Linked DNA regions of Homo sapiens. The protein of the gene in region 2 binds, or shares a complex with, the protein of the main gene of each other region. Each region holds a gene or a part of one and is shown on either strand. Other genes may lie near its edges.

What was found.
Region 1: NOD2 (region 2) and AKAP13 share a complex: the UniProt entries of both Homo sapiens proteins name them as parts of the signaling complex.
Region 3: NOD2 (region 2) and MAP2K3 share a complex: the UniProt entries of both Homo sapiens proteins name them as parts of the signaling complex.

The regions. Positions count from the first base shown.
Region 1 is NC_000015.10:85,579,603-85,583,350, reverse strand, and holds part of AKAP13 (A-kinase anchor protein 13), read right to left. Parts: coding exon 1,244-3,748; intron 1-1,243. UniProt on the Homo sapiens protein: Scaffold protein that plays an important role in assembling signaling complexes downstream of several types of G protein-coupled receptors.
Region 2 is NC_000016.10:50,710,524-50,714,271, forward strand, and holds part of NOD2 (nucleotide-binding oligomerization domain-containing protein 2), read left to right. Parts: intron 1-34; coding exon 35-1,850; coding exon of another isoform or gene 1,851-1,851; exon of another isoform or gene 1,852-2,114; intron 2,115-2,229; coding exon of another isoform or gene 2,230-2,230; exon of another isoform or gene 2,231-3,066; intron 3,067-3,748. UniProt on the Homo sapiens protein: Pattern recognition receptor (PRR) that detects bacterial peptidoglycan fragments and other danger signals and plays an important role in gastrointestinal immunity.
Region 3 is NC_000017.11:21,308,563-21,312,310, reverse strand, and holds part of MAP2K3 (dual specificity mitogen-activated protein kinase kinase 3), read right to left. Parts: intron 170-3,748; coding exon 30-169; intron 1-29. UniProt on the Homo sapiens protein: Dual specificity kinase. Is activated by cytokines and environmental stress in vivo. Catalyzes the concomitant phosphorylation of a threonine and a tyrosine residue in the MAP kinase p38.

The DNA.
Region 1 (3,748 bases), on a different chromosome or scaffold from region 2:
CTTTACCAGGGAAAATAACCACTGTATTTAAATTGCGCTTCTTCCAAAGCAACTTCTTTTGCTCCATTGATTCATTTCTCTCCATAACCCTCCCCCACATTCTTAATACATATGTGTAAAGGGATTTTCAAAAATTGAAAAGAACAGCAAAAATAAACAATAAAGACAAAACAGGCTGCTTCTTACCTACAAAAGCCTAGGGGCAAGCATGGAGATAGGTCTTCTGTCTACAGCTGGTAACAGGTGGTGGTATAGAAGTGTGCATCAAACTGACCTTTAAAGACTTCAGGAGCCAAGATCGTGTCCGACTCCCGTTTCAGCTTCAGCCTCAACCCCCGTTAAGAAGTTTTATTCAGATAGTTTATTTCCACGGAGCAATAGCGGTTTCTCTTTGCTGCCTCGGAACATGGTTACCCACAGATGGAACAGGCTGCTGTGTGAGCAATCTGCTCAGTGCAGCTGCTTCACCAAGATAAAGCAGACACAAGGTCTGCCCTGTGACAGCAGCTCAGCAGACTGGGCTTGGGCGGAAATCCTGCATCCTATCCCCTGCACTGTGCAGGGTCTTGAATTCTCAGACTGCTGCCCAAAAGCAACAGGCAATGGAACTAGAGGTCCACTCCCCAAGCAGGAAAAGGAAGGAGTTCCCCGTCAACAACACCCCTAGCCCAAAAAAAACAAAAACAAACAAACAAAAAACCACCAATGACCTAATACCACCATTTTGGATGTTGGGAAGTCAGCTCAGAACAATACTTACAGCTGTTCATGAAACCACTCTGACTCTAAATTTGCTCAGAATACAGACTAGGATGATAGGGGAGGAAGGGAGTTTCAGGCTTGTAGATAAAACACAGCTTTTTGGCACTGTTTTCTATGGTACTAGAGAAAAGGATTAAGCCATGTGAATAAAAACATCTGCTAAATTCTTTCACCACTTTAGAGTACCTGTGATCTAGGCATTGTTTTCTAGGTTTGCAAAGTTGCAACCACTCCAGAATGAGACAGGAGTGTTTATAAGCTTAAGCAACCAAGCAGTAAGTCTACAATACAGGAAGCAAAATCTGTCCAACCCTGAGATGACGTGCCCCTCCTGATGGTGGTGACTATTAACTTGGCTACCTACCCAATGAGTGCAAGGCCTCAAAACAACAAAGATGCCTATATTTTTACCAGGACACCACAGTGACTCTTAAGGGAATCTGCTTCTCAGACTGTTAATTTTGTATTATGTTTTGCTTACCTGCTGCTGGCTCAGGCCCCTGGACAGGTAAAATGATCTTCTCTGGCTCCTCCCTTCCAGCAAAACATCCTGCAAGGCTCCCCGTGGCTTCCTCAGGAGTACTGCCCATTGGTAGGCTCTCCCCAGGTGGGAAAGTACTCACTTTTTCTGTAAAAGCACTCTCTAGTCCTTTAGTGAGAGGACCCAACTCAGGGCTGGACAGTGACATGTGACAGGCCTCCCCCTCAGTAAGCAGTGCTCCAGCGGCCTTGACTTGTTCGATGACAGCATCCACTATACGGCTGGCAGCCTCCTCTATCAAGTCTGCCCCCTTAGGCAGAGGTGCGTCCTGGGCAGAGACCATGCAAGGTAGAGAGGGAGTGCTCCTTTCCCTGCCTGAAGGCGGGGCTCGCATGACTTCCCTCACACCAGCTGGGGCCCCATCATCATGGGCTGAGAGCTCCATGTCTGTGGGGAGCTCCTTGGCAACAGGCTGCAGTAGGACAGGATGTGCTTCATCGTCTATTTGGGCTTCCTCAGCGTCACCCATGGTACAGCTGTGGTCTGCTCCCTCCAGCTTCCCTTTCTCCCAATCAAGAGGTATCATCTCTGGGGTTCCAACTCCCTGTGGGTCAGTCACAGCTTTGTCCTGTAGAGCCACTGGCAAACCTAGAACGGCATTCTTCTCTTGGCTCAACAAGACGTTTGGAATCAGGATGTCTTGGGTGTTGTGTGATATATTCTCTCTTCTGGGCTCAGCCATACCTTGTAGAGCATTAACCCCTGTAACATCCACCGTCACATCTCCACTCACCTCACAGGCACTAGTTTTTCCCTGGGATTGAGTGTTCTTCACTCCAACATCCAGAGGAGAAGGCTGACTGCAGTTAAGAGCATCGGACCCATCAGACCCATCTGGCAACAGACATGGCAACAGAGCGGAGCTGTTGTGCTCTGCCCCCAAGGCTTCCTGCCTTGACTCTGTGGCCAGACTTGCTCCTGGTGGCACCAGGCTCTGGGCAGCCCCACCTTGAGTCAGCAGTGAGACTTGTGGGGCCACTTCCTTGTTATGTTCAGTTTCTGCCTTAAGAAAGGCAGAGGATGCACCCGGTGAATTACTTAGCTGAAGTGCTTTGTCCTTGGCACAGTCAGCTGAGATTGATTTTTCATGAAATTGTTGAGTATCTTGTCCAGGAGGTGGTGTTCTCTGCTCTTCCTGCAAAGTTCCTGAAGAGAGAGCATTTTCCTTAATAGAGGAACAGGTCACCGCTTTATCCTTATCTTGTTCCTGAGCTGCAGAGCTTTCTGAAACCACCAGAAGTTTTCCTTCTTCAGTCAAAACTGAATCTAAAGCCAAAGTGGCCTTACCCACACTTTGCAGGGAAGAGTCAGTGTTCCCCTTGATATTCAGAGCTTCTGGGATTGCTGGAGGGGCGGGACCCTCATGCTCTCCACCAAGTCCTGTGAGACTGGTATTCCCCATCCCGTGCTGAAGCTCTGCAGCAGTGGAGGATGTGGACAGGCCTACTGCCCTGTCTTCTAGTGGCCGCGTATCAGGCTCATTCGAATTTCCATCTGGGCCATCTCTATAATCTGTAGCTGTATGTAGTTCAGGAGTTGCTGTTCCCTTTTCTTTCTGGGAGGGGACAAAAGAAAGTGCGTCATCCTTGGTTACTGATTCACTGCCTGGACTGTTTGCCAGAGAGAAAGTACTGTCTGATATTACTGCCTGGTCTGGCACCAGTTCTTTCTCCATTTTAGGGACAACTGGATGTGGATGTGAAACCACCTCAAGCATATTTGTTAAAGGTTTATCTAGTTTCACATCTTTTCGTTGGCCTTTGTTATCCACCACTTTGAAAGGACAAAAATCCGCACGTTCCTGGGTATCCCTTACAGGGTCAGAGGTGACTGTATGAGCCTGTGGGTCTTCACAGTGGGAGGCATCGGGTGGATCTTGTGAGCTGGGTTGCCTTGCTGTGGTGCTTTCGGACTCGCTAACTATGTTATCACACAGTTTTGCAACCAAATCGCCACTAGAAGTCACTGTGTTCTGTTGACATGCAGAGTCTGCACAAAGTTTATCGTCTCCAGTTGTAGAACAAATGGGTGAGGATTTGCCCTTTTGGCTTTGAGCATGAGATGAATTTGTTTCTGAGTTCTGGTGTGGCATTACATCTTCTTCCAGCCCAAGAAGGGCTAAATCTGAGGGTGACATTGCCTCACCTATGCCTGCTGCTAAGAGAGTATAAGGTTCTAATCCATCTGAAATCTTGTCTTTTGCAGCAGCTGGAATCACCACAGAATTCTGATCTACTGGAGCATCAGCACTCTCCTCACGACTTCGTGAAGTTTCCGTTTCTGCTGTTTTTTCAGTGGAGGTTTCTTCATTACTAAATGCAAGTGAAGACTCAGCAGGTTTGTTACCATCCAGGGAACTGGCAGCAGGGGCACAGTTTGGAACACTGATTTTATCCACAGGCTTACTTGTGACGTGCACGTCAGAGGCTCCAGCTGTGCCAATAT
Region 2 (3,748 bases):
GCCACCTTCATCTGCCTCTTCTTCTGCCTTCCAGCTGCCACATGCAAGAAGTATATGGCCAAGCTGAGGACCACGGTGTCTGCTCAGTCTCGCTTCCTCAGTACCTATGATGGAGCAGAGACGCTCTGCCTGGAGGACATATACACAGAGAATGTCCTGGAGGTCTGGGCAGATGTGGGCATGGCTGGACCCCCGCAGAAGAGCCCAGCCACCCTGGGCCTGGAGGAGCTCTTCAGCACCCCTGGCCACCTCAATGACGATGCGGACACTGTGCTGGTGGTGGGTGAGGCGGGCAGTGGCAAGAGCACGCTCCTGCAGCGGCTGCACTTGCTGTGGGCTGCAGGGCAAGACTTCCAGGAATTTCTCTTTGTCTTCCCATTCAGCTGCCGGCAGCTGCAGTGCATGGCCAAACCACTCTCTGTGCGGACTCTACTCTTTGAGCACTGCTGTTGGCCTGATGTTGGTCAAGAAGACATCTTCCAGTTACTCCTTGACCACCCTGACCGTGTCCTGTTAACCTTTGATGGCTTTGACGAGTTCAAGTTCAGGTTCACGGATCGTGAACGCCACTGCTCCCCGACCGACCCCACCTCTGTCCAGACCCTGCTCTTCAACCTTCTGCAGGGCAACCTGCTGAAGAATGCCCGCAAGGTGGTGACCAGCCGTCCGGCCGCTGTGTCGGCGTTCCTCAGGAAGTACATCCGCACCGAGTTCAACCTCAAGGGCTTCTCTGAACAGGGCATCGAGCTGTACCTGAGGAAGCGCCATCATGAGCCCGGGGTGGCGGACCGCCTCATCCGCCTGCTCCAAGAGACCTCAGCCCTGCACGGTTTGTGCCACCTGCCTGTCTTCTCATGGATGGTGTCCAAATGCCACCAGGAACTGTTGCTGCAGGAGGGGGGGTCCCCAAAGACCACTACAGATATGTACCTGCTGATTCTGCAGCATTTTCTGCTGCATGCCACCCCCCCAGACTCAGCTTCCCAAGGTCTGGGACCCAGTCTTCTTCGGGGCCGCCTCCCCACCCTCCTGCACCTGGGCAGACTGGCTCTGTGGGGCCTGGGCATGTGCTGCTACGTGTTCTCAGCCCAGCAGCTCCAGGCAGCACAGGTCAGCCCTGATGACATTTCTCTTGGCTTCCTGGTGCGTGCCAAAGGTGTCGTGCCAGGGAGTACGGCGCCCCTGGAATTCCTTCACATCACTTTCCAGTGCTTCTTTGCCGCGTTCTACCTGGCACTCAGTGCTGATGTGCCACCAGCTTTGCTCAGACACCTCTTCAATTGTGGCAGGCCAGGCAACTCACCAATGGCCAGGCTCCTGCCCACGATGTGCATCCAGGCCTCGGAGGGAAAGGACAGCAGCGTGGCAGCTTTGCTGCAGAAGGCCGAGCCGCACAACCTTCAGATCACAGCAGCCTTCCTGGCAGGGCTGTTGTCCCGGGAGCACTGGGGCCTGCTGGCTGAGTGCCAGACATCTGAGAAGGCCCTGCTCCGGCGCCAGGCCTGTGCCCGCTGGTGTCTGGCCCGCAGCCTCCGCAAGCACTTCCACTCCATCCCGCCAGCTGCACCGGGTGAGGCCAAGAGCGTGCATGCCATGCCCGGGTTCATCTGGCTCATCCGGAGCCTGTACGAGATGCAGGAGGAGCGGCTGGCTCGGAAGGCTGCACGTGGCCTGAATGTTGGGCACCTCAAGTTGACATTTTGCAGTGTGGGCCCCACTGAGTGTGCTGCCCTGGCCTTTGTGCTGCAGCACCTCCGGCGGCCCGTGGCCCTGCAGCTGGACTACAACTCTGTGGGTGACATTGGCGTGGAGCAGCTGCTGCCTTGCCTTGGTGTCTGCAAGGCTCTGTAGTGAGTGTTACTGGGCATTGCTGTTCAGGTATGGGGGAGCACCATCAAGGCTAAGTGTGGGAGCACCGAGCTGGGCTCTAGAAGTCTGGGCCCAGCTTCGCCTCTGCCACCCTGCTTTGCAACACTGCCCAGATCCCTTCCCTTCTGGGCCTTAATTTCAATATGTGATGATGACAGCCACACTTTATTGACTGGCCTATGTGCTGGGTCTGGTGCTATGCTTTCCGGAATGACCTCATCTAATCTCTACAACCACCCTGGCGGGTAGGCAGGAATGTTATTATCTCCATTATCCTTGACTTGAGGCTCAGAGAAGTGAAGTAACTTGTCCAGGAAATGGCAGAGCTGGGGTTCACAAATTGCATCATTCTGATTACAGGTTTTCTGCCTCCCACCAGTCTATGGATACACTTCAGAGGCTCCCTGAAAACCTTGAGGTCACTTGCAGAAAGTTTTGTGTAGTATGTGTCCGTATCAGGAACAACACCAAATCAGAGGTGACTTGTGCCCCATCAGAGACTTTAACACCCCAACCAGATGGGAATTTCAGGACCCAAGAAATAGAAAGTGGCTGCAGGGTTACAACTACTGTTGGATTCCTGAGGTAGCACAGTGTCCAAACAGGATTTCAGCACTACCCGTATTGCTTAGAGCCCCAGCCAAAGATGTGAGGTTTTGCCCTTTGGAGAATCTGTGCCCCTGAACTCGGGGGCCTCTTTCCACATCTTGGGGGCAGGCAAGGGCAGAGGGTGTGCCTAGGCCTGCGGATCAGCATGCGACAGATTCCCCAACATCCTTCCAGCTTGAAAGGGGATTGCCCTGCTTCTATTTAGAACCTATAGGAAAGCAGAAGTTCTAGATTGAAGTTAAAATTGATTCCCAGCCTCCAGGGGCTTTGGGCTACACCTGGATGACCTTAATTGACCCTAAGCATGGGACAAACCACTTCCTGAGAGTATTAGGATGGTATACATCTTCTCTGGGGGCAAAGCAACAAGATTTATTTTTCATCATGGACCAAACACATGGATACCCACTAGAAACTGTGTAGTGAATTTTGTTAACCCTGACATAGGGACCATGGTCTTTAGGTTAAAGCATAATAACAACATAATACATAACATATATAGCGAATATATATATGTATTATATGCAATGAATGTAAATATGATTATACCCATCATGGTCTTGGAGGAAACAGATGACACACTTAAAATGGGTGTTTTGAGGAGAGTTTGAAAAACAGATTGTTTACAAGCCATGGGCAGGAGTTAGGAAGAGTGAGAGGGTTGGTGCAGGGGCCTGGGGTTAGTAACAGCTGGGGGAGGGTAGACTTGAAGGGGGAAGGGGAGGGAGACTAATTAGCTGGGGGGAAGGTATGGAGACGGCTGCCTGAGCTTCTGCAAAGTGGAAGAATACCGCTTGGCCCTAACTCCTCACCCCAACTCTTGCTCCTGGCCAGCGCCTTCCACCAGCTGGACCCATCAGGGAGGCCGAGTGGGCTGTCTGCTGGAGTAGTCCCCAGGCATCAGCCTCCCAGGAGCCAGGGACGGGTAGAGAAGGGGGAGAGTGGATCTGGCCAGGCAAATGGAAAACAGCCAGCACCAAACTCTATTTCCCTAGGAGGGAGGATCATGATACTTTGAGTGGGAATTTGGAAACCTGTCTGTTGGAGCAATTTCCCTGATAGAAATAAGAATGTGCATTTTCCTGGGTAGTAGACTCAGTTTTTACCCCAAGAGGCCAGGCATCACTGGCCTGTGTGATCCTCATAGGCCAGTCCATCTCTGGAATTCTTGAATGGATCATCCATCCTTGATTAGGGATGTCCCCGTGATTACCAGGGTGTGCAGAAGGGCTCTGGGAAACCTGTGGGTCTGTCTCTGTGTTCAGAGAAA
Region 3 (3,748 bases), on a different chromosome or scaffold from region 2:
GCAGGCGCTCAGCAGCACCCAAGACTCACCACTGAGCAGTGAAGTCCACAAACTCGGGGGAGAAACGGTCGGCTGGGAGCTGGGGGGACGGCTCCTCCACCACCTGCTTCAGCTGCTGGAACGGGGTCCCCCAGGACTCGTAAGGGAACCGCAGGATGGCCATCTCAATCTGCAGCGGGGACAGGGGGTCAGAGGCCCCGGCCCCAGATACAACCACGCTCTGCACCCAGGAGCGAGGGTTGGGGGCTCCCACCCATCCTGGTACCAGAGCCAGGCGTCAAAGCTGCACAGCTGATCTCCCTACCACATCCCAGCAGAACAAAGGCGAGAAAGCCGGGGATGCCAGCTCTTAGCTCCTCCGACCCAGCCAGCAGGACCCAGCTCAGGAAGCAGATTCAGCCCACACCGGGACTGGTGGGACCATCATAGGGTTTTCAGAAAACCTGAATTCTGAAGATTTTACAAAACAATGCAGGTTCCAGCTGCTCTGGAAAAATCTGAGGAGCTGGCAACTTTGGGCCGTAGCCTCATGAGCCAGGTGGGCAGGTCCCAGGTGGTCACAGCCAATCCCCTTCCTAACATCTGACCATCTCAGACTTCAGCATCTGCTGTCATTAATTTGGGCTGTTTTCACAGAGGAGGCACATGGGAAATGCTACACACACACACACACACACACACACACACACACACACACACACAGCTGTCTCCAAGGCCGCGGACAGAGTGTGAGACCATGAGGCTGCTTCGCCTCTGCACCCGTGAGCCTGCAGCCTCATCTTCTGCAGGGCCCCAGCAGTTTCCCTCCTAGACAAGTGGCCTGTGTGGCCACATGTGCCCTGCTGGATCCAGATTTCCTGTGGGTGACATCGGGCCGGTGGGTCTCTGTCCTCGCTCCAAGCTCCCAGCCCTGTGGTTGGCAGGAAGTCATCATGGAAGGGACGGACTAGCTAGCTTACAACCAACTCTGGGCTCCAATCATGATGACTGGATGGAAAAAACAAGTTATGTCAGCCCTGGCCCCGGCCTGGAAGAACAGAGAATTCCGAGGCTCCAGCACAAGGGCCCTCACTGCCGGCCGTCATCACCATGATGAACGGAAGAGACCTCAGCACAAACACTTGGCACTGGCAACTGGAGCCCGGACAAGACCCTAAGGACTGTGCTGAGACTGTGCCTCCCATCAGGCTAGAGGCCCTTTCCAGCTCAGACAAACACACCCACACAGGCAGGGCCCACTGCGTGTGTGTGCATGTGTGCATGCGTGTTCACAGGACAAAACCGTACCGATTTGGGGGGCTTTTCTCTTAGAATTTTCACTGACTGCAATATGTAGAGCAAGTACCCCATACGAGCTACAGGAGAAGGACCAGCGGCCATGAGAGTTATAATTAGAAAAGCAGAAGTGTCCAAACCTTCAACCTCGTACTCCTTTATTTTTTCTAAAGAGCTCAAAAAATGAAAAACAACAAAAATAGCCTCCAGACACGAAGATGTGCCATATGGTGTTTTCTGCCAGGAAATACTAAGAAACAGCCTGAATGTCCAGCGCCAGGGGCCGGCCCCACCATGGGGGCGGAGACCCAGCCAGGACCGTAGTCGCACCCCTGTGACTCCCCAGCGACAACACTAACAGGCCAGCACCCAGTCAGCACTTGCTCCTGGCCAAGGGCCATCCCCGGCATGACCCCTGTCTGTTCTGGGTGATTCCCACTGGCATCCTGAGGCTTGTGCAGTGAGTGGGAAAAAGCCAACGCCAAGAGAGCTCTGGGGCCCTTGCAGGATGGGGGGAGGCCGAGGCCAGAGCCCCACCCAGGGGGACTCTCCCGACTCTGTTTCATCAGTCGCTCCCCCAGGATGGCTGAGAATTTGAAATGGAAGGAAAACAGCAGGAACAAGGGAAACAACCCACATCAGCAGACAGGGTGACTGAATGGTGGCAGATGGTTATGGAGTCTTTGGAAGGGATACATACAGGAGTCTATTATAATTTAGAGAAATTGGCCAGGTGCGGTGGCTCACACCTATAATCCAAGCACTTTGGGAGGCCGAGGCAGGCAGATCACTTGAGGTCGGGGGTTCGAGACCAGTCTGACCAACATGGAGAAACCCCATCTCTACTAAAAACACAAAATTAGCTGGATGTGGTGGTGCACACCTGTAATCCCAGCTACTTGGGAGATTGAGTGAGGCAGGAGAATCACTTGAACCTAGGAGGCAGAGGTTGTGGTGAGCCGAGATTGCACCACTGCACTGCAGCCTGGGCACCAAGAGCAAAACTACATCTAAAAAAAAAAACAACAAAAAAAACAAAAAACAAAAAAAACAGAGAGAGAGAGACAAATATGAACAACATGTAATGCTACAAAATTTTTTTTAAAAAGTTTTTTAAAAAGAAGCATTACGAGGCCAGGCGCAGTGGCTCACACCTGTAATCCCAGCACTTTGGAAGGCCAAGGTGGGTGGATCACGAGTTTGAGACCTGCCTAGCCAATATGGTGAAACCCCATCTCTACTAAAAATACAAAAATTAGCCAGGCATGGTGGCGCACGCCTGTAGTCCCAGCTACTCGGGAGCCTGAGGCAGGAGAATCACTTGAACCTGGGAGGCGGAGGTTGCAGTAAGCCGAGATCGCACCACCGCGCTCCAGCATGGGTGACAGAGCGAGGCTCTGTTTCAACAACAAAAAAAGAGAAGCATTACATATTGTTTGTATTTCTCTAAATTTTAATAAAACGTATTTTATTATATGTAATAAAAATATTATATATATAATATAATGCACAATGTTGGCACTGAAACGGGGTAAGAGGTGTCTCTAGGTAGAATAACTACAGTCATTTTCCCCTTACTGTGCCTCTATTTTTATGTTAGGTTTCCACTACGTTTGTAACTTGTGAAAGAAAAACCTAACCTGTGCCTAAAGTGACCACCTCCGCCTCCCGCTGTGTGCACCTGCTGATCCTCCATTAAGCCGGGAGCATTCCCTGCCCTTGAACCTGGGCTGGCCTGTGACTCGCTGACCAACACAATGAGGCAGAAGTGATGCTGTGCCAGTTCCAGGCCTAGCACTTCAGAGAACTTCCTTTTAGATGCCAGCCATCATGAAAGAACTCCAACTCTGCTGACACTGCCATGCTCTGAAGCCCAGGGAGCAGGCCAATGTGAGTAAGTTGCATGGAGAGGCCAGGCAGAGGAGGCCCATGTTTGTGAGGCCGTCTTGGGCCTTCCAGACCAGCCCAGCCCAGCCATGACCCCAGCCAATCCCAGGTACAGCAGAAGAGCCATCCAGCTGAGCCCAGCCACAGTGGTGGAAACATGAGAAATAAGAAACCGCTGTTGGTTTGGGTCACTAGGTTCTAGGGTGGTTTGCTATGCAATATTTGATAACTGAAATATACACTTAGCACACACTTGTCCAAGTTCCACCAGCCATATCAGAAGGCCACTAGCCATGGTGGCCCCAACAATCATGATGGATGGACAACTGGAAGGGAGACAGGGAGATGGGGAAGGGACATAGGGTGTGTGTATGTGTGAGGTAGTCATGAGCAGGGTCTCTAATATCCAACCAGTTCTGTGCAGTCTAAATACAGCAAGAACTTGTCCTTTGCATCAAACTTAGGACTTGGAAAACTGTTATTGCAGATACAGCACCTGCCTTCAGCCTGAATATTCCTCTCCACCTCAAAAAAAAAAAATTTTAATTGAAAAATTACATGTCACCAATTAAAGAAAATTGAAGGT